Linked DNA regions of Homo sapiens. The protein of the gene in region 1 interacts with the protein of each later gene in a pairwise test. Each region holds a gene or a part of one and is shown on either strand. Other genes may lie near its edges. The genes, in order: NCOA5, MEIG1, ZNF326 and RAB30.

Region 1 (7,664 bases):
AGGACCAAGAACAATCTGTTTCTCTGTTTTGTCAGGGCTATTGAGTATTGGTATCTCTCAATCTGAGGGTTTACGTAGAAGCTGATTCCATTTTGCTCAAGATGGTTTAAAAAAAAAAAAAAGAGAACAAAACAAAACAAAAAAACAACCTGAACAGTGAAGTCACAGATATGCTTTGTCTGCTCTGACTCAATGTTCTTCATGAGACGTTTCAACCCACTGGAAACTCCTCTTCAACATATTTAAAATTAAAAACTTCTTACCCCAACCCCATCAGTCCCATTCCCCACTTTTCCACTTTTGACAAAATCATCTTTCCACTTATCAAGTTTTAAGTTCTTGAATATTAACTATGCTTTTTCTTCCCCCATCCCAATAAAGTCACTTGTGTCCCGTTCACTTTTTCTTTCCATTCCCATTGGATTTGTAAGTCCAATCCAAGCCCTTATTTCTATTCTGACACCAACAGGTTTCCAAAACACAAAATTAAAAATCAACCTACTTGCTTTCAATTCATTCAACACATAAATACACTAACTATCCTAAAATGCCAACTTCTATGTTAGAAAGCCTAATAAATCTGACAGCTATTATCTCCCTCTCATTTCTAATTCAACCTCCTCAGTTCTACTTAATTCTTATAACTCACAAGATATAATCTATCTCAATAGTTTTATTTATTTGATTTCTATACTTGGAATATTTTTCCTGCACTAATCCAAGTACCATCCAATCCACACAGGCAAGTTCGTGTCCCATGTCTTCCAAGAAACCTTCCCTACCCTTCCTAACTGCTGATCTCTTCTGCTCAGCTCAGGGCACTTTCTATCTGTATTACTCATCTTGATCTGGCATTTACCCTTTTACAACAATGTCTTATGTCTGACCCGCTTTAAGGATTACCTTCTCCGTAAAACCTGCCCTGAACTCTTGATCTTCCCCAACAACCATGCTCCTCCTCCAGTCCTTCCCATCTCAGTAAATGGCACATCCAACTACTCAGTTACTCAAGCCACGAAACTGGATGTCATCTTTCCCTTAAAGCCTCATCCTCCCTTCCAACCACATTTCCAAATTTTCTCCATTCTTTCTCAGTTCTGCCCACTTTCCTTTACCTTCTTTGGCAAAACTGAAGGCCAGCGCATAATCATCTCACCCTCAAACCACAGCAAGAGCCTTCTAAAGCAGTCTCCTCATTTCTGTTTTTGCCTCTTTCCAAATCTTTCTCCAGAAAGATCACTCTACAGTGATCTGTTACGTATGTAAAGCCCTTCCCTGGTTTCCCACAGTATGTATTTATTTTTATAGGGATGAGATCTCACCTATGCTGCCCAGGCTGGAGTGCAGTGGCTATTCACAGGTGGGATCACGGAACACTACAGCCTTGAACTCCTGGGCTCAAGTGATCCTCCTGCCTCAGCCTACCAAGTAGCTGGAACTACAGATGTGTGCCACTGTGCCAGGCTCCCACAGTATTTAGAATTCAATCTACAACCTCTACCAATGCCATGAAGGTCCTGTATAATCTTGGCTCCTGTCTTCTCTAACCCTGTCACACCCTCTCCCTAGTTCACCACTCTTTGCCACACCGGCCTTTCAGCTCTGCCTAGCCAACGTCTTTCCTGATCCCTTTACGTGAGTAGCAGGAAGAGATCTATACTCCTCTTCCAGGTCTCAGCATATAAATATCCCCTACTCCCTGATTGTTAGATTCAATCAAAGTTTACTTTCTGCCCCTAAAATTCTCTCATAGCACTGTTTTCACTTTTGTCATTTATCACAAATTGACATTACATATTTACTTAATGTCTGTCTGCCCTACTAGACTACAAGTGCCACAAGGACAAGAACTATGTCACTTTGATTCTGCACTACAAACCCACTATGTAGAACAATGTCTGTTATACGACAGATGCTCTATATGTATGTTGAATGAATCTTGCTCCAGTACAAACTTCTATAACCGCACTTACCACACTGTTCTGTAATTGTTTACGTGGCTTCCCTACCAAATAAGAAGTTCTCTTGAAGGCTTTGTAGCTCTAGGATACACCATAGGAGTTCAGTAAATGTTTAATGAATTGAATTATTCTACTAAACTGTAAGCCTCTCAAGAGCAGGCAGCATGTTTTGCTCATACTTTTGTCGTCTACCATGGTTACACACGTTAGGTATTCATCATGATGTCATCAGCTTGTGGAAAACCTCACCTCAGCTACACGGGCACAGCAAAAACAATTTAAATGCCAATTTTGCTTCCATGAAAAATATTTGTTATATATTCTAAGGTTCACCAGCATTCCTGACTTGTGAGAGCAAACATATCATAGACCAGGGACTTTAAATGAGAATAGCTAAGCATTATTTTTCTTATTAGAATAAAGTAAAGACTAACCAAGATTCTTACTTCAACCTTCCTTATTACATCATATAATCTTCCTAACATGTAACATCTGATGTAGCATGTAATGTGGGCAAACACTCAAGATCCAAAGAGAAAGGACAACTGCAAAGTATTTTTGGATTAATGATCGGCAGATAAACCTGCCTTGGGGAGCAGTTAGAAGTAGTCATTAGAGGTGGAATCCAATTTCAAGTGTTCTTGGCAATCAGGGCTGAGATATCATGATCCTGACAGACCACAGACCACACACAAAGCCTTGGGCTGGTGGAAATCGGGGTGGGGCATGTCATAGCATGTTATTTACCACCTTCGGAGTATTATAAGTGTTATGTTATGATTGGTCCTCATTCTTTTGAATCCACTGAAAAACCTTACTTACCTGTCAAAGTCCATCCCTGCAAGTTGACTAAAACTCTAGATTCGCAAAGTCTGGGTTCAATCTTCCAGTCTGAGAGGGCAAGCCCCACCCTTTCCCTCAAATAATTTGAAGTCCATGTGCAACAAAACTACTAATTCCCTCTCAAGTGCCTTCAGGGTAAAAATGTAGAAGAGGTGATATTCACAAAAGGAAAAAGAACCAAAGGCATGGTGGAAGTAGGGACAAAGAAGATAATAATTTTCTCAAAAGGAAAGGCAAAGCCTTTTTTCCTTTCTCCAAAAGATAAACACTATGGTAGACTGCTGTTCTTCTGGAGACGAAAACAAAACAAAAAACCCTTTAGGGTTGCTTTAGGACCCAAACAAAGAACTCCTCAGAACAAAAGGGCTCCTGCTGCTGGCCCCAACATATTTTTCAAAACAAGACTACAGCTAACAAAAGGGCAGTAGTATGCACGAATCAAAGTGCAAGAAGACAAAGCTTCCTGTGGGAGACGCTGGACCTCAGATGATAAGTGGGTTAGAATCAGGTTTCTGGAGCATAATAAGGTTAACAATATCATCCCACAGCACCAGAGGTGTTTTACTAAAGGAACCAAATGCAGCATACCCTCAGGTACTACATCACTAGAGGATAAAAAGAAACTGAACAGTGGTTAAATTTCAGCACTGGAGTCCACAAACTGAAGGCAGGTGGCAAACACAACTAAAATTCTGCTGTAAATTCCTCATCTATTCAGGAGGGGGAAAAAGGCAAATACTCTTTGCCTTGAGGGGAATATAGTCACACTGCTGGGAAACATTTGAGACGTAAGGGCGAAAGGGGTGAAGGGGAAAACAATGGCTCTGGTGGCAAGTGATGAGCTTCTGGTAGAATGTGTCTCTTCCTGAGGACTAAAGGGGTGTGCAGAGCACCAGGCATGTGACAGCCTACAGAGTAAGAACTGATAGATGATCATCTTGGAAAACTGTGATGGACTTTGAATTTCTCTTTGGCAAGAGACTGAAACTTCACATCCAAGATGGTTTTCTTTGGCTTTGGTTCTACAGACGGTCAGGGAGGAAGACCCCTGTCTTTTTCTTTCTTTTCTGCAAAGGTCAGCATCTCCTTTCTTCCTTTCTGTTCACCGGAATGTCTTCCTTGGGAGGGCCAGCCTCTTTCTGACCCTGAAAAATCCTTCATTAGCTCTTCAAACTTCTGTCACAGATATACTGTCCACAAATATCATCATCTAAATGGCTGGCTGCTGTATGATGTTGATCCTCCACCAGGAGGGCTTCATGCTACTGTTAGAAATGGAGACAACAGACTTGTCCAGAATATTGCCATTAGGTGGAGGTAGGATATGGACGTGCAATGAGATATCACACCTCACAGACCCAAATTTTACACATGTCCATGCTTTTCCTTAGGAAGCACTGACAACCTTCTCCAGCACAAACAGAACTTTCTTATTGGTAGAGGTGGCAGCTGCTGAGAACTGATGACTTCTTCAAGTGTTACTGCAGAGGTAATCACAACCTGGAATTTCTTTGTGGCCCACCTAGAGCAAGGGCTGTCTCACAACCAGGGAGCAAGCAATAATCAAAAGCATTAGGGCCCTGTGGATAAGCAGAAAGCATTTCAGGTCATATAAGAAACTTGTCTACAGCCAGGTTATTTCTGATGAGCCGATACCCAATGACTTTCACCAAAGAGATACCAGGTTTAACATCTTTCACAAATATATGGGGAAAAATCCTCTGCAGAGCGTTGGATGCAGACAAGTTAATTCTATTTGTTCTTCTTTAAGTCATTCAGAAGTACAGTCTTACTTCTTGTACCTAGAGGCCACATCTGCATAAAGATATGCTACAAGATCTGGACTGTCAAGGTGTTGAGCTGAAGATGGTAACTGAGATATCTAAGGCACAACTGGAATCATGATCCTGTCTTTGAAGAAGGACTAATGCTTAGTATCGATGCTTGACAACTTGCATGGTAACTATGCAAGGTACTCACAGGAGTTCAATGAAGTGGCCCTCAAGAGTTAGATGATAAGAATTCAGGCTGAAATGTGATCCAGAGCAGAGATTCCTCATGCAGAGTTCTGTGCTTGGCTGGGCCAATATTGTCAGAATTACACACTGACAGCTGGAGTCATCAGGGAGTCATATTATTGAATAGAGAGCAAAGCCAGCAGAACTGTGGTTTACTGAAACATCTGAAGAGGTGATAATCCTGTAAAACTCCCAAAGATACCTACGTTAAGTCCAGCAAAACAAGGTGTTATAAAGGTCTTGCCAGTATGCTTATACCAATATTCTTATTAAACGTAGAAAGCGCTAAAAATGTAGAGGTATAACTTTAGGAAATATTTGCCATAGGTAGTGTTTTTTTTCCCCTGTGAATGATGCACCCCCTGTGGCTGGGGGCATACAAAATGATTAGGGCTGCCAAATAAAGGCAGTTTGTTGTTGTCAACTATTGATACATTTGGAGTTATCTCAAGGCTTTGACTGGAAGCATGCACCCAAAGGAGGTACCCAGTGTTCACCCTCAGTTAAATGATTTGCCCCTTCCAGATTAATTACTTGCCCGTCTCACCTACTCTTTGCAATTTATGTCTGCCCTATTGGTATATCTTAAGAGATAAAGTATGATCAGGACAATGATTAAAATGTTAGTGCTCGCTATTTTGAATACAATGTTAAACCTGTCTTTTTTTTTAAGGTAAAAAACTGGGATTTTGAATACAATGTTAAATTTGTCTTTTTTTTTTTTTAAGGTAAAAAACTGGGACTCTTAGTTCGGTTTTTAGATGGGGTTACTAATGGTGACCATCATTCTTCCCTGAAGCAAATAAACATGACTGTATGGAACTTCATCATGTTAAATAACATGCTGAGGAACCCAGCTAGGGAAATATCACCAAGGGGAAGATGGATTGTTAATGGAATTTGAATTAGCCTAGCTGTCCCTCCTGTTGATTGTAAATAAAGCAGGAAGTCACTGCCCTATCCACACCACCAAATGACCTCATTTTACAATTGATTTCTGAGGAAGGTGATATTTTAAAAGGCATACAAAGGTGACCTGTATATTTATATAGTTGGTAAGGAGCTCATTTTATTTTTTGAGACAGGGACTCACTCTGTTGCCCAGGCTGAAGTGCAGTGGTGTGATCACGGCTCACTGCAGCCTCAACCCCCTGCACTCAAGTGATTCTCCCGCTTCAATGCCTCCCCAGTAGCTGGGAGTACAGGCAAGAGCCATGACGCCCGGCTATTTTTTTGTAGAGATGGGGTTTTGCCATGTTGCCCAGGCCGGTCTCAAACTCCTGAGCTCAAGTGATCCGCCCACCTCGTCCTCCCAAAGTGCTGGGATCACAGGTGTGGGCCACTGTGCCTGGCTAGAAGCTCATTTTATAAGGCCCTCTCCAGTGCTGTCTGTATGTTTGTTTGTGCGGGGACTATTATTTAAAAAAAGCATAAAACTATTTCTAGATTGGGGTAAATTAATATTTTTAATTTAATGCTCTGGCAACGGCTATTACTGGGTTTCAACCAGGGAAGTTGGTCATTCCCCAACACTGCAATGTTTGTTGAATATCTACAATCAACTAGAAATGTTAAAAGCATTTGGTTAAGTATCATTAACAGGATGATATAAAATACCCTTCTCAATCCATAACAGAAACAGGATCTATTCTCTATTCTGCAATGTGGCTTATTTGTTGTTGTTGTTTTTGCCTGCAGAAACACACAGACATTATCCAGAGATCACCAAGTATCATGGAGACAACAGAGAGGGGTAGGATTTTACTAGCGGAGTCAGTGTCTTTTATAGTTACAAATTCCACACTCCTGGTAAGTCACCAGGAAACACACACGTTAGCGCTCTTTGGAAATTGGATACACACCTTATCTCCTTTCAAGCCACCTGGCAACTAAAGATTCCAATGGGAACCCTGTACTTCTGAAGATTAGATGCAACTCTTATCCACCTGTATTCCATTCTGTGCTGGGACAATAAGGAGCAACACAGATAGGACTGCCCAAGATCTGTGGCATGGTTAGATGAAGGCTAATGAAAGCAGACATTATACGGAACTGCTGAAGTTCTGCAGGATTTGTTTATGTTCTTCAGGATACTCACACATACACACAAATCAACCAACAGAGTATTTACCTGCAAGCTGCAAGCATTCTTTAGAGAGAACAGACAGAATACCAATTTACATGCCCACTTCCGCAGTGAAACCAACGAATGGCCAGGGAATCCACACGACAGCTGTGGTATATAGCTGTAGCTATGGTATTGGATTCAACTCTGCTGCACAGGCAGAGTGGACAAAGACTCCAACTGAATGAAACCAGCAGCATTACTTGCCCTTAGGGTCTGCTTAAACTGCAGAGTGGGCATGCGTAATCTATTCCCGGTAGCTAGAACTTCACATCCAAGTAGGAGTATATACATGAAACACACAGTGGACATTCTTTCATATAAGCAGGTAACAAAATACAGGTGTTTTTGTCCAAAAGCAGGACAGCTGTATGTTATGCGTAATGCTCAGTTAGTTGGGTTCACAAGGTGACCAGTGGAGCTACCAGTACAGACGAGGATTCACTGTATGCAGCACTGTCCAGTTCACTGTAGGAAATGCAGTTTACTGTGGTACGTAGTTTAGTTATGTTTCTGGGGAAAACTGGCTTTTTTACTTAGAGGCAAGGCAAAATCAATTAATCCATTTGGGCCTTGAAGAGACACCAGATATGAAATATATCATTCGTATGAAATATATCATATCTGTCTGCCCTCTACACAAAACTGCATCCACTTGTGTGCTGTTATGGGGCCAGAACAATTGAATACAGTATCTTTATTTTTGGTGTAAATGGT
Region 2 (7,664 bases), on another chromosome or scaffold:
TTAATACAGTGAATTCACTAACTTTTTTTTTTCTCTCTTAATTTAGACAGAGTTTTGCTCTTGTTGCCCAGGCTGGAGTGCAATGGCACGATCTTGGCTCACTGCAACCTCTGCCCCCCAGGTTCAAGCAATTCTCCTACCTCAGCCTCCTGATTAGCTGGGATTACAGGCATGCGCCACCACGCCCGGCTAATTTTGTATTTTTAGTAGCGACGGGTTTCTCCATGTTGGTCAGGCTAGTCTCGAACTCCCGACCTCAGGTGATCCACCCACCTCGGCCTCCCAAAGTGCTGGGATTACAGGCGTGAGCCACCACGCCCAGCCTAACTTTTTTCTTTAATATTTCTTAGAACCTTTTTCCTGTGTAATATATCTATATTCCTGTGTAATGTTTCATATTATATATATGAATGGATTCTTAGGCTGTATCACATGTCCAACTCACCTCTTTGTCATAGCTGGTATATTGCTATTATATTGTGCAGCAGTGGAGTAGTGAACTTCCCACTAGAATGAATGGCATTAAAGGACAAAGGTTTCACTGAAGCGTGGCTTATTTGTTTTGCCAGGTGTTCCAAATTTTACATAAACTCGTATAATACTGTAAAACTGGACCGGGTGCGGTGGCTTACACCTGTAATCACAGCACTTTGGGAGGCCGAGGTACACGATCACTTGAGGCCAGGAGTTCAAGACCAGCCTGAGAAACATGGTGAAACCCATCTCTACTAAAAATATAAAAATTTGGCAAGGCGTGGTGGCTCACGCCTGTAATCCCAGCCTTTTGGGGGGCTGAGGCAGGCGGATCATGAGTTCAGGAGATCCAGAACATCCTGGCTAACACAGTGAAACCCCGTCTCTACTAAAAATACAAAAAATTAGCTGGGCATGGTAGTGGGCGCCTGTAGTCCCAGCTACTCAGGAGGCTGAGGCAGGAGAATAGCATGAACCTGGGAAGTGGAGCTTGCAGTGAGCCGAGATCGCGCCTCTGCACTCCAGCCTGGTGACAGAGCGAGACTCCGTCTCAAAAAAAAAAAAAAAAAAAGAATACAATATAAACACTATAATATTTAGAATGTTAAGTAATTTAACAAAAATCTAAATAGGAAGAGCATTAGAACATCTTTCTTGTTTTTCATAGAAAAGAGTCCATTGGTACTTGTGACTTAGCCTCCTAACAGTCTTCATTATCTTTTTTTACCAACCACTAAGGGAACATTTAGGCTACATCTTTCATATTGAAGAAATATTTGTCTGAAATTCAGCAAGTCTGTCTATTTTATTTCCATTTCCTATTTTTCCTCTATTAAATCCAAGTGAAGCTAAATTTATGTCTTGTAAAAGCATTTATTAGAAGATCCTTTTAAATAAAACTTTTAAGTCTATGTTAATTAATCGTATATTTAGCATGATTTTTACCCAGTATGAAGGATGGATATTTCTAATTAATGTCATGCTTATTTTGAGTTTTCCTTTATATATATGTATATAAGAGTGTGTGTGTGTGTGTGTGTGTATATATATATATATATATATATACACACACACACACATATATATGTATACTTTTTTTTTTTTTTTTTTTTTTGGAGCCAGAGTCTTGCTCTGTCACCCAGGCTGGAGTGCAACCTCCACCTCCTGGGTTTCAAGCGATTCTCAAGCCTCAGCCTCCCAAGTAGCTGTGATTGCAGGCACCTGCTACCACGCCCAGTTCATTTTTTTTTTTTCCTTTTTGAGAAGGAGTTTCGCTCATGTTGCCCAGGCTAAAGTGCAATGGTGTGATCTCAGCTCACTGCAACCTCCACCTCCCAGGTTCAAGTGATTGTCATGCCTCAGCCTCCCAAGTAGTTGGGATTACAGGCATGTGCCACCATGCCTGGCTAATTTTGTATTTTTAATAGAGACGGGGTTTCACCATGTTGGCCAGGCTGGTCTTGAACTCCTGACCTCAGGTCTCCTGACTTCAGTCTCCCCAACTGCTGGGATTACAGGCTCGAGCCACCATGTCCAGCCTTTCCCTGTTATACCTTTAATGTATTTCTTGACCTTTTAAACATAATGAGCATTTGTTATTGTGATTGAAAAAAATTCATAAAATATTAATTTATTTACAGGATCTGACTTTAATGTGTTTCAGCCAATAGAAATATATTTTAATAGAAGAATGCATTCAAGGAATCATAGTGAAAATTCTGTACACTTTATTTCAGTTAAATGACTGATATATTTTGTTAATAAAATAAGTAGCTGAGAAAACAAGTGTAAGATTATGCCTTTGAAAAACTTGCTATGGAAGTTCGGTGAATAGACAATTACATGAACTAAAGTCGTATATTAGACTTTCCAAGACTATTAGTGACCTCCTACACTGTTTTTAAATCCATGGTCTCAGTACCACGACAGCCACACAGTGTGCATGGAATCTGTGTTAGGCCATTTTCTCACATTAGTTCATCAAAAGATCAGGTACTACAGTGACCTCAGTAAATGAATTGCAGCAATTGGGATGTCTCCAAGCAATTAAGAAGTGAAAAAGAATAAACCATCCCCTCCCAGAAACAAGAAAGCGAACAGAGTGAGAAGACGGGTCTTACATTCCCTTTTTGAGAGAGAGAGAGAGAGAGAGAGAGAGAGAGAGAGAGAGAGGTGCAGCTTTGAATATAAGTAATGGAATGGTGGTGGATATTTTGACAATCTACTGAGCATGTTTTCAGAAATGTGCAAACTATTACCTGGAACTCCAGTATTTGCATACAGCTTTTAGAACATCACTCCGTAACTCCAACTCTGACTGGGATTTTATTGATAAAGAAAAAAACAGTTTTGTATGTATCTTTCAGGGACTTGGGGTTTTTTTTGTTTGTTTCTTACAGTTTTATCCCCACAAAATAGAGCATGAATCCTTCTCAATCTTGGAATTGTATGTTTAAAAACTACTATATTTAATGGGATTCTCAACTCTAAGTATAATTTTTAAGTGTTAGTTTTATTTATTCTTTTTTTTTTTTTTTGAGATGGAGTCTTGCTCTGTCACCCAGCTTGGAGTGCGGTGGCACAATCTCAGCTCACTGCAACCTCCACCTCCTGGGTTCAAGCCATTCTCCTGGCTCAGCTGCCCCAGTAGCTGGGATGACAGGCGTGCACCACCATGCCTAGCTAATTTTTGTATTTTTAGCAGAGACGGTGTTTCACCATGTTGGCCAGGCTGGTCTCAAACTCCTGACCTCATGATCCACCTGCCTCAGCCTCCCAAAGTGCTGGGATTACAGGTGTGAGCCACCGCACCCGGCCAGTTTTGTTTATTCTTAAAGGGAATTTCAAAATTGTCACTATTACATTATCCATTAATGTTGTTTTAACATCTTTCAGATATTATTGATAATAAGGCCTCTGTAACCATGGCTAGTTCTGACGTAAAACCAAAATCAGTAAGTCATGCCAAAAAATGGTCAGAAGAGATAGAAAATCTGTACAGATTTCAACAAGCAGGATATCGGGATGAAACCGAATATAGACAAGTGAAACAAGTTTCTATGGTAAGATTTCTGTCTCTACAAACCTCAACTCGAAATGTATTTCTCAGATGCTGAAAAGTATTTTATAAACAACCAGAGAATAACTGAAGGAAATTCGACTCCAACTCTCTCATTTTATTTGTTTTCTTTTATTTACTTTTATTTTATTTTTTGAGACAGAGTCTCATTCTGTCACCCAGGCTGGAGTGCAGTGACGCAATCTCGGCACACTCCACCTCCCGGATTCAAGGGATTCTCTTGCCTCAGCCTCGTGAGTAGCTGGGATCACAGGCGTGCACCACCACGCCTGGCTAATTTTTGTATTTTTGTAGAGACGGGATTTTGCCGTGTTTGGCCAGGCTGGTCTTGAACTCCTGACCTCAAGTGATCCACGCGCCTAAGCCTTCCAGAGTGCTAGGATTACAGGCAATAGCCAGGACGCCCAGCCAGACTCTCTCATCTTATTAACGGGGAGAGGCCCAGAAGAATGATTTGCAGGCAGAGTGGGAGAAGAGGTGGTCGTTTAGCTGGGCACATTCAGAATTTTCTCTTTTATTGAGCAACTGTGCTCTGCTAAATGAATCTTTTGCGGTAGACCACAAAAAAAAAGCTTTTTTCCTCACTCAGGTGATTTCATTATCAGATAATCAGTATGTTGGGTAACTATTATTTCCCTCCTGTTACTTTTTATTTTAACCATGAATTAGAAAGAGGTTAAAATCCTGTGGTTTTTGGGGCAATTATACCTTACAAACAAAAGTGTTAGAACAACTCGTGACTTTGATAGTATATCCCAGGCTTTCCTGAGAGGGTAGAGACCTAGCTTTGCTTTATGAAGGCTAGACCAAAGTCTAGATTTGGCTCCCGTTTATACAGTGTGGTTCTTCTTAACTTATTTATTCTCTTGGCTACTAAGATATTTTTTTTTTTTTTTTTTGAGACAGAGTCTCACTCTGTCACCCAGGCTGGAGTGCACTGGCGCAATCTCGGCTCAGTGCAACCTCCACCTCCCGGGTTCAAGTGATTCTTAAGAGACGTGTTTTTACAAATTCAGTTCACCCCTGAACAACACAGGGACTAGGGGCTTCAATGCTTCATGCCGTCAAAAATTTGTGTATAACTTTTGACTCCCCAAAACAACTACTAGTAACCTAGTGTTAACAGAAACTCTTGCCCATAAGGTGAATAATTGATCAACCCAGGAATACACTAATATCTTGATATATTTTATGCATTCATGACAAACCTTTTCTTAATTATTTTTGATATTTATAGTCTGTGTGGTTTGCAACTTTTTTCAAATCGTTGCAAATCTCAAAAAAAATTTCAACAAATTTTTTGAAAACAATCCATGTATATATGGACTCCCCAAGTTCAAACTTGCATTGGTCAAGGGTCAACTGTATTGTAAAATATGACATAGTATTCATAAATATATTTTAATTTTTAGATTTGGGATTATAACAGTGTTTATTAACTCAGTTGTTTATTTTTATTTTTTACTAACTCATCATTTTTCAGATTCTAATGTGTAGATTTTGCAGATCACTATAAGCTCTTCTTTTTCTTTTATTCTATTCTTTGACCTCTACTTAAAAATTCCTTTAAAAGTACATAGGAGGCTGGGAGTGGTGGCTCACGCCTGCAATCCCAGCCCTTTGGGAGGCCGAGGTAGGCAGATCACTTGAGGTAATGAGTTTGAGACCAGCCTAGCCAACATGGTGAAACCCTGTCTCTACTAAAAATACAAAAATTAGCCGGGCATGGTGGCATGCACCTGTAGTCCCAACTACTTGGGAGGCTGAGGCAGGAGAATCACTTGAGCCCAGGAGGCAGAGGTTGCAGTTAGCTGAGATCACACCATTACACTACAGCCTGGGCAACAAAGCGAAACCCCATCTCAAATAAATAAATTAATTAATTAAATTAAAATTTTAAAAGTACATAGGAAAAATAATGGAGGCAATACGGAACTATCATGTTATTACCTCTTTAATAGACATTAATTTAATGACATTATTGTGGTTAACAATAGAATTTAAAATACTGATCAAGTGAAGATTGATTACTGTGACTTCCATGTATCTGTCTTCTCAACCATTATACTCTATCCCCATTGCCAAGGATAATTTTCATTACTATATCATCTATGGCTTTTAAACAGAAAAAACAGAAGCATTATCATTTTTATGCTGTTTAAAATAAGCTTTGGGCTGGGCGTGTTGGCTCACACCTGTAATCCCAGCAGTTTGGGAGGCCGAGGCAGGTGGATCATCTGAGGTTGGGAGTTTGAGACCAGCCTGACCAATATGGAGAAACCCTATCTCTGCTAAAAATACAAAACTTGCCAGGCATGGTGGCACATGCCTGTAATCCTAGCTATTCGGGAGGCCGAGGCAGGAGAATCACTTGAAACCAGGAGGTGGAGGTTGTAGTGAGCCGAGATCACGCCATTGCACTCCAGCCTGGGCAACAAGAGTGAAACTCCATCTCAAATAAATAAATAAATAAAATAAGTTTCATACCCTGCCTTAAGATTGGGATGCCCCTAAAGATACACAAGCCTCAGACTCATAGGCGGCCAGCTGTGGTGGCTTACGCCTCTAAGCCCAGTGCTTTGGGAGGCTGAGGGTGAAGGATTGCTTGAGGCCAGGATTTTGAGACCAGTCTGGGTGACATAGTGAGAACCCATTTCTACAAAAAACTTTTTTTAATTAGCCAGGCATGGTGGAGTGTCTCTGTAGTCCCAGCTACTGGGAGGCTCAGGTGGGAGGATTGCTTGAGTGCAGGAGATCGAGGCTGCAGTGACCTGTGATCACATCACTGCACACCAGCCTGGGTGAGAGAGCAAGACCCTGTCTCAAAAAAAAAAAAAGAAAAAAGGAAAAAAGAAAAGAAAGTTGTCACAAGAATTAAATGTAATCACATGTTTGAAGTGCCTGACATTATAGTGCTCATAATTTGTTGGGCTGGGCACAGTGGCTCACGCCTGTAATCCTAGCACTTTGGGAGGCAGAGGCGGGCCGTTCACCTGCAGTCAGGAGTTAGAGACCAGCCTGGCCAACATGGTGAAACCCTGTCTCTACTAAAAATACACAAAATTAGCCGGGCATGGTGGTGCACACATGTAATCCCAGCTACTAGGGAGGCTGAGGCAGGAGAATCACTTGAACCCGGGAGGGGGAGGTTACAGTAAGCTGAGATCATGCCACTGCACTCCAGCCTGGGCGACAGAGCGAGACTCCCCCACAAAAAATTTGTTGACTGAAGGAACAGCAAGTGTTTAGTAAATGATACCTTTTATTAATCTCATCATCTTAGATTCTAAAATAAGTAACAAGAACAATAAAACCTTACACAAATCGAAGTATATGTTCCTTAACAAAAAGAAGCACAGGGATTTAGAGGAAAACAAAATCACTTCCTTCCAGGGACAATCCCCAGAGAGGGCTTAGTGTCCCCAGTGGCATTTGCAGTGGGTCTTCAGGGACGGATAGGATGGTGACTGAAGGCTTGCTTTGGGTGGGATGTTTCTCCCAGTGTGCAGTGGTTTGAGGTTTGAGAGAAGCTGTTTTTCATTACCTGGTGGTATAGTGCTTGCTGACCTTCCCTCCTGAGGGGAAAGTCCTTGAACTTGAGGATCTCATTCCATTCCACCACAGGCAAGAAAGTTTCCCAGATCAAATGGAAATGATCAAGTTGAAAGTCAAGAAGAAAAGAAAGTTCAGAGATGCCAAGGGACATCAAAAGGAAAAATGTCTAGAAGTCAACAAGCAAAGGAGCAACTTAGCTGTCCTAAGGATTGTCCCATATCAAGTAGCTCAGCTCCAGATGTTCGGAAGAGGCATTGGTTGTACTGTTTTCTCACCGGATCAGATGGCTTTCAGATAATCTGCTCCTGGCCCCAGGAGGGAAGAGGGCTGTAATGGAGTCTTGAGAACACCTCCTTTCCCTGCCAAAGGTATTGGAAGCCACACAGGCAGGTGTGGCCTCAGTGGTGGAAAGGACTGCTGGTTTTCTGTAATGTATGTCAGAAGGCCTGCCAAGGCTTCTCAGATATGCTGTTACCTATTCTCGCTAATTCATAAGTAAATGAGATGACACAAAAAATGAAGATGTGTTATTAGAAAGTAAAAGACATGTGGACAC
Region 3 (7,664 bases), on another chromosome or scaffold:
TGGTCCTCCAAAAGCATCATAGTTTCTGCTTCCAAACGTACTTTCAGGATAAGCAGGCGTTCCTCTCCCCCGAGAGCCTACAGGTGCAGGCTTCATATGGGGTGAAGAAAAACTGCTGTAGGAAGAGTAATTCTCTCTTCCTCTGTCCTCCATAAACCCAGGCCTCAATTTTGAACGGGAGTAAGGTGCTTCCCAGCTAGACCCGCCCTGGTTTCTACCTCCGAAAGAGTCAAGGCTATTCCGGTAGGAGCTCTCAAATCGACCACCATAACTACCTCCGAAGCGGCTTTGTTCGGGTTCATTAAAACCATAGCCAGATCTGTACAGATCTCGCCCACCCAGAGAAGACCTGGAGTCGTAAGACTCATAAGGTCCAAACCTGGAAAAGTTGCACAGTGAGGGAAAAAACAAAAGTAAGCTTACTAATGTTAGACAATTCAAAAGACAAATTATCAGATGACATTTATCAACTAAAATTCATTTATACCATACTGGTTTGCACAGTTCTACTTTTGTTCACATTTGATTAGGGCTGGGCAGTTCAACGTGAGACCAGATAGAAAGCTATCTGAGTCAGATTATAAATATGAATTGAGTTTAGTAAAACTTAGCTTTAAAATCTGCTTCTTAGCAGCTTTTCTATTTTATGAAGAAGAAAAGATTTGTCTGTCATTATTTAAGCCCAGCCCTAGTCTTGGAAAAGGTCATTTGCTAAAGTTCACAAACTATTCAAACTTTTTTGAATCTATCCCTAATATTAAAAATTACAAAACATTTACAATATTTTGGCTTTCAATAGGGACACAAATTGAAGTCTACTTAGATGTAGGTTATTTGTGACACAGAGAGATCCTTTTGCACTCCCAATAATCTATATCACAAACTGCTTCATTGTGTCTGTAGGAGTCAAAATTTGGGGAATTATCTCTGGTTATAAAAATTTAACAATCTGCCAAACTTCAGCCAAGGTCAATTAATCAATCCTCAATCACTTTTTACTTGTAGACTAGAAAATCTAACAAATCTAGAAGGATAAACAGATAAAACATAAAAGATCACCAACATATACCCTCTGCATATGAATTTTCAAGGCAGATGAGAAAGAATACATCTTATAATATATTCAATTATTTGCAAAATTATTTCCTTCAGGAAATTATCACATAAAACTACCCTAAAAAAGGGAGCACACAGTCTCCTCGAGGTTTTAAGAGAGTTAACAGAAGAAATAAATCATCTTCCTTCTCACAAACCCAAAGCATGGATTACAAAAGTTGCTTGATATCTTACAACACAATTTTATAAAGGCCCACAATTACACATGAGATAAAACAATAACATCTACGGATATAGCTTATGCACATTACATTCACAATATAAAAGGGCAATAACTGACATATTAAAACATTAAGTGTTACATTACTTCAATTATTTACAGATCACTAAATAGATTTACTTCTGAATCCTAGTAACCATATAAAAATTATTCCTATTTCCAACTACATTTTTCAAAACATCTATCACATAAGCAAAATAGTTGCAACTGTTCACTTTCTTAATTTTTCTTTACTATAAACCATAGTGGTACACTGGAAGCAGAAAGAAGGAAAGTAAGCATCATTCAGTCCATCATTAAGGAATCCGGATCCTTCAATTTATGCAGAAGGATGACTGTTTCACATGTCTACTAACTAGTTTTACTTATATTCAGCAGGAACCTTTGTGCCTCAAAAAGTAGACACCCCTTCTCCTGAAATATGGTCAACCTTAAAGCTTGTAGTTGTTTAAGTAGGTTTAAGCTTTATACAGTAGTAACAGGAAAATATAAATACAATCTCGACTAGTCAAAGGTATAGTATTCATGGCTTTAATACAATGCTTCTAGCCTAGAGCACAAGTGCTTTGGTGTAAGTAGTACCTGTCAATAAATAACCTGAACATAATTTTAAAAATATTTTTATTATTGCAATATGCTCTTCCTTTAAAATTAGAATTAAAGGAATATGTCCTGAATGTTTCTTGGAAAGTAAATGTTAGACTGGTTCAGTAAAATCCATTCTAGTTAGACTGCTTTGCTAATTTACATAGCACCCCACATTAGAAAAGATTTTTTTTAATTATTAAGAAAAAGCTTCATAAATAATATTTTCAATAACATTTTTATATCATTTTTCAGGATACTTTGATTGACAAGAAGTTAAAAGTAAAAGAATTTTTTAAAAGTTCACTGCTAAAAAGTGTATCTTACTCTATTATATTGACATGATATAGTTATCTGGTGTTTTCCTAAAATAACGTCTGCCAGTAATACTGATTTAAATTTTATACCCATTAATTAACACCTTTAAATATTTAAGGTGATGATTCAATAGCAAACAGTGAAGTTCAAGTATCATAACATGCCTAAAGAGTACTTAAAATAATATATCCAAAATCTTATAGTTGTCTAATTATTTGGCCAAATGATTAAGCAATTTACCTGCTACCCCCACCACCACCACTGTGATTGTCCATGCCATATGACTGGTTTAGGTAGGAATCCATGGATCTCTGACCCCCATAGGATCCATGGCCATAGTCACGATCCATCCCTATAAGAGTTTAAAAAGAAAAAAGTTATATGATGCTCACCTTTACTGGCACTCAAAAGAAGAATTTTTAGATAAATATCCTTGAATGTCAGACCTCCATAAGATCCAGGGCCATAATCACGATCCATTCCTAAAAGAGAGTCAATAAGAAATTGTCAGTAAAATACACCATTCTCTTCAGGGATCTTTGCACAAAACACAAGATATTCCTATCTATCACCTGAGATAATTTACCATTAACATTTAAACTAAATTCACACTAAATGCTGAAGGGAAAAACACAAAGATGAGAAGCTACTAAATCAAATTTGCTAAAAAAAAAAAAAAAAAAAAAGCCCTGATATTTCAAAGAAAAACATATTTTCAACTAAAAAGTTCTATATTAGAATTATTTTTATTTTCTTTTGAGACTGGGTTATGAGACTGGCTAATTTTTGTATTTTTGATAGAGATGGGCTTTCACCGTGTTGCCCAGGCTGGTCTCGAACTCCTGGGCTCAAGCAATCCACCTGCCTTGGCCTCCCAAAGTGCTGGGATTACAGGCATGAGTCACTGCACCTGGCCACAGAATTATTTTCAATTTAACCAATATTTGTTGGACTAGGGGACTACTATAAGGCCTTGTATTAAGTACTATAGCATATATAATTAATGATACATAATTCCTATTCTTAAAAGAAGTCAGCATTTAATAAAGTCAAAGGGGAAATTTTTGTCCTATATGACAGCAGTAGACTATACTTGTTTTCTGCATCTAACTGCTCTTTAAATGTCTGAAAACTCAGAAGCAGCCACATTTCCAATTAGCCTTGTTCACAGTAATTGAAACAGATATTTTTAAAAAGTAAAATCACAGATTGAGACCAATCTATGGCACTGTGCCTATAAATTATGACTCAACAAATGAATGCAAATTCTAGCAATGTGAACACTAAAAAAAAAAAACTAATACAATAAGCATATTAAGTCTATTTTATTACACTGCAATTCTGCCTATATACCAACCTCTGATATGAAAAATAAAACAAAAGAGGTAACAAAATCAATTTAGGATGACTACAAAAATCAGAAAGTAAAACAAACATTTAGAATTTGTTTTCTATAAAGTCCTTTAAAAATCCCTCATTACTCTCCCCAAATGTCATACACAAATAAATACAATAGTACACACAGAGTAAATATCTTAATTTTATATTTTTTAAAACATTAAATTTTATATAATCATATAATATCTCTAGTCCCAACAATAATGACAACAATAACAACTTTATAAAAATAGTACTCAAAGTCATCCAACTTTAAACCTGGTAGCAACCTGAATGTTCAAAATCAATCCTCTCATTTTATAGATCTGGGGAACTGACGTCCAAAGAGATGAAATGATTTTCCCAAAATTCTATACATATCCTCTTGTCTAGTCTCATGCTATTGCTTCTACATGAAACATTTTCCTCTGCTACCCTAAATATCAGCTTATTGAAACTTTCTAATCTTTTAAAGTCCATTTCAAATCCTAATGCATTCAAGAAAACTTTTACTGATACTCTCTCAGCTGAGTGTCATCCTTCTTCTGAATATTTACAAAAGCCTGTAACTCTCACGTGGTGCTTGTGATACTCTGCCTTACTCTGCCATTTGTGGCCTCATCTTAAATTTACTAGTCCTGTGGTAAAGGTCCAAATTTTATCTTAGAACAGCAGTTGCTGGGCGCGGTGGCTCACGCCTGTAATCCCAGCACTTTGGGAGGTCGAGGCAGGTAGATCACGAGGTCAGGAGATCAAGACCATCCTGGCTAACACAGTGAAACCCCGTCTCTACTAAAAATACAAAAAAAATTAGCTGGGTGTGGTGGCAGGTGCCTGTAGTCCCAGCTACTCGGCAGGCTGAGGCAGGAGAATGGCATGAACCCAGGAGGTGGAGCTTGCAGTGAGCCAAGATCGTGCCACTGCACTCCAGCCTGGGCGACAGAGTGAGACCCGTCTCAAAGAAAAAAAAAAAAAAAAAGAACTAAGTGAAAACATTGTTTTAACGAAAACGACCGACATTATTTGTTGTCAAGGATAAAATTCATGCTTTCAAGTGAACATTAGAATTTTTTAAAAGTTGTATCTACCACCTTGAGCTTGACACCTTCCCAATACTTAAAGGCTTTCTGAAAGGTTGGTGGTGGTATCACTGAATATGATTTTTTAAATATTGTGCCATAAAACTGATCAATATTTGGAAAATCTGCATTTTATATAAAAACTAGTATTTTCCAAATAATGCCGATATTACAAAATAATATATGGTAAAAAAGATCCATTCAAAGTGCAAGACATACTAATGGGTTTTAATATAACAGTACAAAAAGTTTATCAATATACAAAACATATGGAGATATGTTACTGCTTTTTTCATTTGAAGACTTCAAATCTGGTGTGTAATTTACACTTACAGAGCACTTCAATTCAAACTATCCATGTTTTAAGTGCTCAACAGTAACATGTAGCTAGTAGCTACCAAACTGGACAACACAGTCCCAGATTAATAAAATAGTTAATTTTTTGTGATACAGTTGGTAAGTATATAGTAAAATTTATGCTCATATCTCTCAGAGGATAATTCTGAGATTAAAATAAAGTTTTCAAAATGAAAAGTTTTCCTCTAAGGCCTCATATTAAAAAATAAGATTATGTTTAGTCAGGTACACAGAGAAAAAAATCTTATGTTTTATTTCTGCTAGTTTCTATTTTGAGTTAGCACTGGCTGCCTTTGAATATTAAAACCTTTAGTTTTTTGTTCTATTTATTTCACTATAATCATAAAATTATTAACATTTATTGTACACTAACCATGTATGTGTTAGGCACTGTGAAATGTACAAAAATTAATAAAGCTACTTTTATATAGCAATGATTCTGTTTGATTGTTCATAGTAATGTTACTACTCATTTAAACAGGAGGAAAAGTCTTTATATTGTATACAATCAGTGTAGTTATAGGGCTACAGATAATGTAAGATGACTGCTTTTTTATAAATTTTTCTTCCAGGTCACCAAAATGAATTTTAAAATCACTTTTAAAAATAAAACCATGAGAACATAGTAGTATATCTTAAATGATAGTAATTTACCCAGAAAAATAAAACTGACCTAATAATTTAAATCAAATATATTCTATCACTTGGATCACTCTATCATACAAATAATACGCTCAAAAATGCTAAAACTCATTTTTAATTAAAACACAAAGCAGCAGCTGTGACATACTGGGGGAAAAAAAACTGACCTATGGGCTGGGCAAGGTGGCTTACACCTGTAATCCCAATCCTTTGGGAGGCCAAGGCGGGTGGATCACCTGAGGTCAGGAGTTCAAGACCAGCCTGACCAACATGGTAAAACTCCGTCTCTACTAAAAAACACAAAAAAAATTAGCCAGGCATGGTGGTGGGTGCCTGTAATCCCAGCTACTCAGGAGGCTGAGGCAAAAGAATTGCTTGAACCCAGGAGGCGGAAGTTGCAGTGAGCTGAGATCACACCATTGCACTCTAGCCTGGGCGACAAGAGAGAAACTCCACCTCAAAAAAAAAAAAAAATTAAAAACTGACCTATGACCAAAATAACTAACTATGTGACATTAAGTCTTGAGTGGGACTACTTTTTAGCAACTCTACACTACCAGCACCCTACTACAAGATACCAACATCTACCACCTAGGTTATTGCAAAAGTCTCCTAACTGGTTTTCCTGCTCCACTTTTGCTCCTTTGCTGTTTTTTCTGAAGACAACAGCCACAATAATTCTGACAAAATGTTAAGTTCAATCATGTTCAATGCTCAGTAACCTCCAATGGGTTCCTCTTATTCCAAGTAAAAGCCAAAGCTTAAAATAACATCTAAGAACCTATACCAGTGGTTCTTAACTAGGGGAGATTTTGCACCCCCTGGGGACATTGGCAATGTCTGAAACATTTTTGGTTGTCACAACTAGGGGGCAGATGCTACTGACATCTGGCATATTATAGAGGCCAAGGAGGCTGCTAAATGTTCCACAATGCACAGGACATCCCCCTACAACAAAAAATTACCCAGTCCAAAATGTAAGAAATTTGAGAAACCCTGCCCTACATGATATGCCCCATCACCTCTTAACTTCATTATCAATTACATACACCCCTGTTCACTCCACTACTACAACACCAGGCCCCTTGATGTCTCTAGAACACAAGGTGTATACCCATTTTAGCAGCTGCTGTTCCCTCTGCCTGGAATGCTCATTCCCCTGAACCTGCACTGTTTACTCCCTCAACTTTTTCAGGTCTTCACTTGTATTGCTTCTGATATATAAGCAAATTATCTTTGATTTTCAATGCTTTCTGGCTCCACCTCACCACTCTAACCTTGTCTTAAGATTGCTCAGCAAAAAATCATCTGTTCTAGTCAAGCCAGCGTTAAGGTCTTGCTCTGTCACCCATGCTGGACTGCAGTGGCACAATCATAGCTCACTGCAGCCTCCACCTCCTGGGCTCAATCGATCCTCCCATCTCAGCCTCTGGAGTAACTGGAACTATAGGGGGGCACCACCACGCCTGGCTAATGTTTTTAAAAAATTTTTTTGTAGAGACAGGGTCTCACTATGTTGCCCAAGCTAGTTTCAATCACCTGGCCTCAAGCAGTGCTCCTACCTCAGGCTCCCAAAGCACTAGGATTATAGGCATGAGCTACCACACCCTTTTCTCTCCCCTTTTCTATATGCTATTTATGTAAAAGGTATTATGAAGCAAGAAGGAAAACATGGAGACACTGGAAATACATTTTCCTTCCAAGAAATAGTGTGGGGAAAATCTGTATCTTGCCATGTTTTCCAATGCCTTCTACTTCATTTCACTTCCTAGAAAATACAGTGCTAACAATAAAATATATTTTTGGCTTTTTGGTACCTACACACTGTTTATTTCTTAAAGCCCGTAAGTCTTCTTCTAAATGGCTTCATGGCTTGCATACTCACTCATCTTAAATCTATGCTCAAATGTCATCTTTTTGGTGAGTCTTTCCCCAGAGACTCTAAAATTGCAACACATACAAGCACACAC
Region 4 (8,157 bases), on another chromosome or scaffold:
TCACCCCTACCCCCTAGCCTAGTATTGCCAAAGTACCTCTTTGTACGTGATTATTTACGTTTGTCTCCCTCACCTGAGTGAATTCCTCCGAAGTAAACAGTATCTTATTCAATGTTGTTTTCCTAGCATGGTGCATGGAAAACTGTTATAACAAATAAGTAAACTGAGTATACTGTTGTTTTCCATGCTGGGGTAAGTATAAACTATTGGAATAAATACATTGTACAGATGAGGAAACTAAAGCTCAGAAAAAAAAATGTGATATGTCCAACATCATACAGCTAATAAATAAGCAGTGTCCAGTGTGAGAAAGCCTCGTCCAGAGCTCTCTTCTACTCCATCATGCCACATCCTACACATGGACAGCAAGAGTGAAAGATCTTAGATGTCTTCCAGGAACCTCAAACTCAGCATGTCCAAAGGTCCTCCCTTCGGAAAACAAAAAGACCTGGTTCCCATTCAGTGTTCTCTTTCTCTGAAAACGTCATCCCCAGTTGCTCAAGAAAAAAACTCAAGTCATTTCATGACTCCCTTTTCTCCCTATCCCCCCATCCAATCAATCAACAAATCTTATCAATTACAATTTTCAAAGTTAGTGTCGGCCGGGCATGGTGGCTCATGCTTGTAATCCCAGAACTTTGGGAGGCAGAGGCAGGTGGATCACCTGAGGTCAGGAGTTCGAGACCAGCCTGGCCAACATGGTGAAACCCCATCTCTACTAAAAATACAAAAGTTGCCAGGTGCGGTGGCTCACGCCTGTAGTCCCAGCACTTTGGGAGGCTGAGGCGGGTGGACCATTTGAGGTCAGGAGTTTGAGAGATCAGCCTGGCCAGCATGGTGAGACCCTATCTCTACTAAATATATAAAAATTAGCTGGGAGTGGTGGGTGCCTGTAATCTCAACTACTTGGGAGGCTGAGGCAGGAGAATCGCTTGAATCCAGAGATGGAGGCTGCAGTGAGCTGTGATCATGCCACTGCACTTCAGCCTGGGCGACAGAGTGAGACTCTGTCTCAAAAAAAAAAAAAAAAATACAAACGTTAGCTGAGCATGGTGGCGGGCACCTGTAATCCCAGACAATAGGGAGGCTGAGGCAGGAGAACTGCTTGAACCTGGGAGGCGGAGGTTGCAATGAGCCGAGATTGCGCCATTGTACTCCAGCAAGGGCAACAAGAGCAAAACTCTGTCTCAAAAAAAAAAAACAAAAAACTTAGTGTCTCTCTAAACCCTCTGTCACCACCCTAGATCTAAGCACCATCATCCCTCATACAGACGACAAAAATTATTTGCTACTTGGTCTCTACACATTCACTCTGACCAAGTCTTTCCTTCAATCTCCTCTACTTAACAGCCAGGATAATATTTTAATATCATCCTACATATGCCATTCATCTAGTTTTTTAAAGCCAGGCTAGGTTCTCATTAGCCTTAGGATAAAGACCAAAATACACCTGTAGCTCAAAGAACTGCCTACTCTCTAGCCTCTGCCCACCTCTCCAGCCTCATTCTTCATTCTAGTCTTTCTCCTCTTGCTCTGTCTCTAACTTCCTTTCAAATCCTCAGGTTCACCACTCTTCCCTTTGAACTTTGAACATGAAGTTCCCTCTGCCAGAAACCTTTGTCCCACTATAAGCATCTCCCACTGCCATCCTGAATTACTACTTCCGTTTACCCTCCAAGTCTCTTGAAGTGTCACTTCCTATAGGAAACCTTTCCTGATAACCCTAGACAAGGGGAAAGTACCATGTCAGGCACTCCTACCCAACCCTTTTGGAAATGGCATTCATCACACTTGCAATTATTTATTAAGTATATCCCCTATTAGAATATAAGCTCCATGAAGTCAGGGAAAGCATTTGTTTTCACTGATGTATCCACAGTGCTTAGTACATGGTAGCTGCTCAATCAATATAAATTGTCAGAATTATAGGTTGGGGCCAGATTATAGAGGGCTATAACATCAGTAAACCAAAGAGCAAGGATCATTATCCCTTTGCAAATAAGTAAACCGAAGCAGAAAGAAATGAATAGTTATTTAAGGTCCCAGAGACAGCAGTGATGAGGCCAAATCTAACACTACATTCAGCCCATTTCTCCTCCCTAGGACAATAAAAGAAACTTTGGTGGGTAAGGAAGTATTTCAGAAGAAGAAAATTAGGAATGAGAAGATGGTGCATAAAAGGTCTAAGAGGACAGCTTCTGAATCTGCCTGTTACACTAGTTGCCTCCAGATGGATAGCAGTTAGACTTTCCACACCTAGAGGAGCACTGCTGTTACATAAACAAATATAGCCACTATCACACTCTTCCCGTTAAGAGAAGAGAATAAAATAACAAACTTCTTTCCTGCACAGAGGAGAAGAAACAACCAGGGTGGGTGGGGAACTGTTGTCCTCCAAGTATCTTCAAAAAACCAAATGGGCAGTTTGGCCACCTGGATTGCTACTCAGCAATCCACAGGGAACAGGAAGAAAGAGGGGGGAAAGATCAGCCTTCCCACCACCAGCTGCAGCAAGGATAAGGAAAAAAAAAATGTATTGTATAAGGCAAGCCACTTGAAGACTACTTATTCCTTGGGAATTATGAGAACATTTCATGTAGAGCATTTAAAAACCTTGCTAATCCATAGGCAGGTGCCAGTGAAAGGAAAAGTGGCATGAGCCCAACTGCAGCATTTCATTGTTCACATGCTGCTGGGGCTAAATTATGTCTGTCACAGGAACTACAAACCAGACCAGGGGTCAGGCTCATTGCTGCTCATCCTGCCAAGCACAGACTGCAAGAAAAAGAAAAGGCAAAGAAATTCTCTTCAAAGAGGATTCTGCAAAAATATTCACATAGTCTACATCCACCCAGGAGTTCCTAGTTGAAGTGGAGGACCAGGGAGTGTGTTCTAAGATTGAAGAGAAAGAGATGTGATATGCTGGTGATAAAGGAGGGGTTTTGAAACAGAAAGGAAAAATGTAAACTGCAAATGGAGAGATAGAGAAATAAACAGAATTTCAAGAGATGTGGGTGGGATGGGGTGGGGTGGGGGGAAGAAATGAAAGTACAGGAGAGAAGGGTAGGGTGTCCAGAAGAGCAGAGCGTCATCAACAGAGAGACGCAGAGGCAAAGGCTAACTGTTGATCTTTTCCCAAATCCAAAAGCTGCTCATTGGCATCCCAATAAATCACTCTACTACAAAGCCCATACAATGGACTGTCCTTTGCATTCAGCATCAAGCAGCATTTAATGAAATATCACACAGCTACAACTTTGGAGACCTAAGGATCTGAATTTAAAATGAACAAAATTGGCTTAGCAGCAGAAGACAGCCAGTAAAGAATTTCGCCCATGTCTGACTCAGCTAGGAAAAGGTTTAGCATTCTAGAGTTAAGCAAATACTCTGGCATTTCTCCTTCTTTTGACATTCCAAGAGGGGGTGTGGTTGACCCCAGGCCCATTCATTTCCAAGGGTGTAGATCTCTCAGCCAAGACTGGCCCCATCTGTTGTGGAGCCAGCCAGCTGTTTATCTCAAAGTAACATATCTATTGCCCTAATTATCCCTATAACTCTTACAAGAGCATCATGTAAGTCAGAATGCTTTCTCTCCTGTTAAATGTCAGTTCGTTTAAAAAAACAACAATAACAAAACAACCAAAATCACTCTTCCATGGGCACCTTTCAGTAATGGCAAATGAAGGTTAACAGCGCTTCTAACTTTCCCTTTCTCTAATGTGTTAAAATGAACCCCTCTTCCCTAATCGATCTCTTCAAACCGTTATTTGTGAGTAGTGACTATGCCTCAGGAAACAGCAGCTCATTATGGTACCATTGTCAGTGGCAAAGAGCCTATGCAATGTAATTTAAAACACACAAGCACAAATCTGTCGGCTCCACTTCCAAACAATCTTGAATCCAGCAGTCGGAGAACGGAAAACATTTAACAAAAACGCTGCTTCCAGCAGCCTGAAAGAACCTTCGCCAGACACGTGAAATGTTTCTGACTGGCACGGAGTGCACCATTAAAGGACACTGTCACCTCAAATCAGCAGAAAAGGCGAGACAAACCACATAGACATACACACATAAAATAAAGCCCTACAAAACTTAAGCACGTTCATCTTAAAAATTAATAACTAGTGCTCGTCCAAGCGACATTCAAATGTTCTAAAGTAGTGCGACCACATTAATTCACTGTCTCCATTTCTCCCCACGCATCACCCCTTCCCACTCAAACCTCAGCTCTCGGGCCGTGTGTGACAGGACTGCAGTCCCCCACCTCTGCCTTCCTCAGATTTTCCAAGAGCACTCCCCAACATCCTTCCCAGCCCAGCCCCCTCTCTCCGCCTCAAAAAGGTTGAGAGGAGTTGCGACTAGGGAATTGGCAGGCACCCGTCCTCTGGCGGGGGAAGGTTGCTGGAGTTGTTCTTTGCAGTGACCCAAATGGCACAGAGCTTTTCCCCTTAGCTGTGCCTGCAAGCCTCTCCCCAATCCCCCCCACCTCCCCACCGCTCACAGCTTCCCAAAAGAAAGCCTTGAGAACTAAGCGGGAGGAATAACTTGGTAGAAGCATTTGAATAAATCACTTCAACTCACCTGGTTTGGGATTTTTCTCCCCACCCCAGGCATAAACAGAAATGGATGTGCGAATGAGTCACGCACGCAAGGGAAGGTCTGCGATGTCCTGAGTCCAAGGGCTGGAGTCAGTCCCTGCCCTGGTGCTGCTGCTACACTTAGCTCAGCTGGAGCGAGCGGCAATCGCAAGCCCAGCAGCAGCAGGGGGTGGAGAGACCGTAGCACAATGAATGCAGTGGGGCTTTTGCAATGACATCATCCCTCTGTCCAAACGTCCCCAATAGCCATGCTCGGGAGCGGTGCTTTCTGGGAACTGTAGTCTTCTTACGTCCTGAAGGGATACCCAGGCAATCCCCGAAACTACAATGCCCAAAATGCTCCAAGTGGGACGCGCCCAGAGTGAAGGAGCAAAGGGGACTCGGCCGCCATGTTAGGAGTACTGGGACGATTCCGCGGAGCCGGGCAGAGGTTTTAGGGGTGCGCAGGAGTCAAGTGGTGGTTCAGTGGGGACGGTGAGGTGGAGGACGATCTGGTCGGATAGCCGCGGGCACGAACCTGGGAACCAGAGGGTGGAGGCCATGCTGGGGACTGATGTAGGGCGGGACCGACTGGAAGCGGCATCCAGAGGCCCAGTGAGCCTCGGTCTCAGCTCCTGAAGGGGTTGCATGGGGCCCTACGCTTCCTTCTCCATTTTTTAGCTAAGAGATTGAGAGAGTCGGTTTACTTTTGGGCTTGGAGTATCATTTAGATCTGTTAACAGTACAGTTGAGAGAGTTGGTGTCTTTTGTTGAGGTGCGAGGACCCGAGGCGGCGACCCTCGCCTTTATTCGGAGAAGCCCACTTCCACCCACAGAGTTGGGGTAGTCCTCCGAAATGCATTTTTGTTTTGCCGTTTGTTTTCCAACCCCCTTTCACTCTCCCCAAAGCTTCAGATTCACTGATTTTTCATACAGGAATGATTAACAAAGGCGTCCGAAGAAATCGTTGTTGGAAGGTGACCAAGGTGGAAAGAGACGTTGCTTTGGCCCTGCAAGTAAGAAGAGAGAGGGAATAGCCTGAAGGAGTAACACTAAATTTAAAATGACACTTTTTTACCAACCAGCGAAAGCAGATGTTCAAAGGGGATATTGGCCAGGTGCGGTCGCTCACGCCTTTAATCCCAGCACTTTGGGGGCAGACGCGGGGAGATAGCGTGATTCTAGGAGTTCAACCCCAGCCTGGGCAACATGCGGAGACCCCGTACCGTCTCTACAAAAACATTAAACAAAAAAATTAGCTGGGCATGGTGGTGTACCCCTGTAGTTGCAGCTACACTAGAGGCTGAGGTGGGAGGATCGCTTGAGCCCGGGATGTTGAGGCTGCAGTGAGCCTCGATCCTACCACTGTGCTCCAGCCTGGGCGACAGCAAGCCCGTGTCTCAGAAAAGGCGGGAGGGGTGGGATATTATTGATGATAGGCCTTCTGACGTCTGGCAATAGATTCCAGAGTAACATCGGTCATGGATAAATTTTTTTTTTAACTAAGTGACTGAAACCAAAGTTAATTGTCTTTTGAGTGATTTTGCACAGTATCTCAAAATGAACTGTACTTTTTTTCTTGTGTCACTGAAACAGTGCTGTGTGTTCTTTTTCAGAGTCTGTCACACTAAGATGAGAAATGTCCTTTCTTCCTGAAGGTGTCTGATGTGTAAAAATATGATATACTTTGTGCTGTTTCCTCCCTTCCCTTTTGCATATTATTCTGAAACAACATTAACTAGTTACTTTGCGTCATTGAAGGTATGCACTTCCCCTCTATGTTAGGAGTGAATAAAATTAAAAATAGATCCTTATAACAAAGAAAGGCAGATAGAATGATTAAAAATGACCAAAACATGTTAGAAACAGTCTCTCAGGTGTATGCAGATGGTAATTACAAAAATACTTTTTCAAAAAATGATCTTCTGTGTCATGTTTCTGGGAACAAGTCAAGATGAATGAGTTTGATTTTTAAGCAGAAGTAGTATGTGTTGGTGTCATCCATGAATACAACAATGAAAAAGGCTCAAAGTTGTTGTTATTCAGAAACTTCTCTAAGTAATGGTGGTAAGTACAGGAAAAGGAGCAATGTCTACCATTTTCTTTCTAACCTTCGATTTAACTATTGTAATGTTGTAAGCTTAACAGAGACTTACACTTAGGCTTAATTTCAAGCTCTTCAATCATTTTTCCCGGTTGGTGATTCAGGTGTATTCTCATGTCTTATGTAAACTTATCATGAGTGTTGTTGATTTATAATATATTTCTTTATGTAAGCCATAGCCTTGTCAGTTTGAGTTATATGGAAGACAAATTGTAGGGAAAAAGAGCAACAGATTACTCAGAAACCTTCTGTGTGAGCTGGGCATAGTAGTGCATGCCAGTAGGCTTAGCTACTTGGGAGGCTGAGGCAGGAGGATCACTTGATCCCATTAGTTTGAGGCTGCAGTGAGCTATGATTGTGTCACTGTACTCCAATCTGGACAACAGTGAGACTATGTCTGTTTTTAAAAAAGAAAGAAAGCTTGTGTTTGAGAAGTGATACCTCTAGAATACAGTGATTTCTATAATTTGTCATGTGTTTGGGTAGTTTGAAGTTTTTCTATCCTTGTATCTAATGGACATCTGACCATAAAGATGAAAAAATCCTGCACTCATTATAAATTTTATTTATAAAATTGATATTTGAGGAGTTGGGGAGGCCAGCTTCTGAAAAAATAACAGTGTCCCATAGAAACACCACAACTTAGGAAAATATTGTTAAAGTGGAATTAGGAATATCTAGAGGAGGTAAAGCTTTTCATCTCTCAAAAAAGAATTAGGGCCAGGCACAGTGGCTGACACCTGTAATCCTAGCACTTTGGGAGGCCGAGATGGGCACATCACTTGGGGCCAGGAGTTCAAGACCAGCCTGGCCAACATGGCGAAACCCCATCTCCAAGAAATAGAAAAGTTAGCCAGGTGTGGTGGCGTGCGCCTGTAATACCAGCTACTAGGGTGGCTGAGGCAGGAGAATCGCTTGAACTGGGGAGGTGGAGGTGGCAGTGAGCAGAGATTGAGCCACTGTACTCCAGCCTGGGCAACAGCAAGACCCTATCTCAAAAAAATAATAAAGAGAATTAGGACATGGATTTGTATTAAAATTATAGGTAGCTCATTTAAGAGTATGAAGCCAATTGCTGTTAGAGCAAGGGTTTTTTTCAGTAGAGGTGTCAGGATAACCTATACAGCTCTAAAAGTATATGGCTGTTACCTTCCCATCCCTGTTGAAATCTCCAGGGTTAGAACCAAGTATTGTGTTTTTAAAACTATAGGTGAGTCTACAAGAGTTGGGTGGAGTAGTCCTCTACATCCTGTGTTTGTATTTTTGCAGTAAGTCACACAATAACAAAAGCTTTGAGAAAGATTTTAGGTTTATTGCTAATTATACCCATGAATGAATTCTGAAAATGTGTAGATAAGGAATTTACCTGGTGAACGGTTTACACATGGCAATTGTGGGAGGGAGAGGGGAGTGAGAGGAGATGAGATCAGTTTTAGCTTTAAGAGGACCAACCGGGCCAAGCACGGTGGCTCACGC

The links.
Region 2: the proteins of NCOA5 (region 1) and MEIG1 interact in a two-hybrid assay, tested with the Homo sapiens proteins (one large-scale study listed by BioGRID).
Region 3: the proteins of NCOA5 (region 1) and ZNF326 interact in a two-hybrid assay, tested with the Homo sapiens proteins (one large-scale study listed by BioGRID).
Region 4: the proteins of NCOA5 (region 1) and RAB30 interact in a two-hybrid assay, tested with the Homo sapiens proteins (one large-scale study listed by BioGRID).

The regions. Positions count from the first base shown.
Region 1 is NC_000020.11:46,071,034-46,078,697, forward strand, and holds part of NCOA5 (nuclear receptor coactivator 5), read right to left. Parts: intron 1-7,664. UniProt on the Homo sapiens protein: Nuclear receptor coregulator that can have both coactivator and corepressor functions.
Region 2 is NC_000010.11:14,963,071-14,970,734, forward strand, and holds part of MEIG1 (meiosis expressed gene 1 protein homolog), read left to right. Parts: intron 1-3,369; coding exon of another isoform or gene 3,370-3,398; coding exon 3,399-3,536; intron 3,537-7,664. UniProt on the Homo sapiens protein: Essential for spermiogenesis.
Region 3 is NC_000001.11:90,000,060-90,007,723, reverse strand, and holds part of ZNF326 (DBIRD complex subunit ZNF326), read right to left. Parts: intron 2,722-7,664; coding exon 2,686-2,721; exon of another isoform or gene 2,632-2,685; intron 2,592-2,631; coding exon 2,480-2,591; coding exon of another isoform or gene 2,476-2,479; exon of another isoform or gene 1,279-2,475; intron 380-1,278; coding exon 1-379. UniProt on the Homo sapiens protein: Core component of the DBIRD complex, a multiprotein complex that acts at the interface between core mRNP particles and RNA polymerase II (RNAPII) and integrates transcript elongation with the regulation of alternative splicing: the DBIRD complex affects local transcript elongation rates and alternative splicing of a large set of exons embedded in (A + T)-rich DNA regions.
Region 4 is NC_000011.10:83,067,110-83,075,266, forward strand, and holds the start of RAB30 (ras-related protein Rab-30), read right to left. Parts: upstream 4,789-8,157; 5' UTR 4,582-4,788; intron 4,354-4,581; exon of another isoform or gene 4,223-4,353; intron 1-4,222. UniProt on the Homo sapiens protein: The small GTPases Rab are key regulators of intracellular membrane trafficking, from the formation of transport vesicles to their fusion with membranes.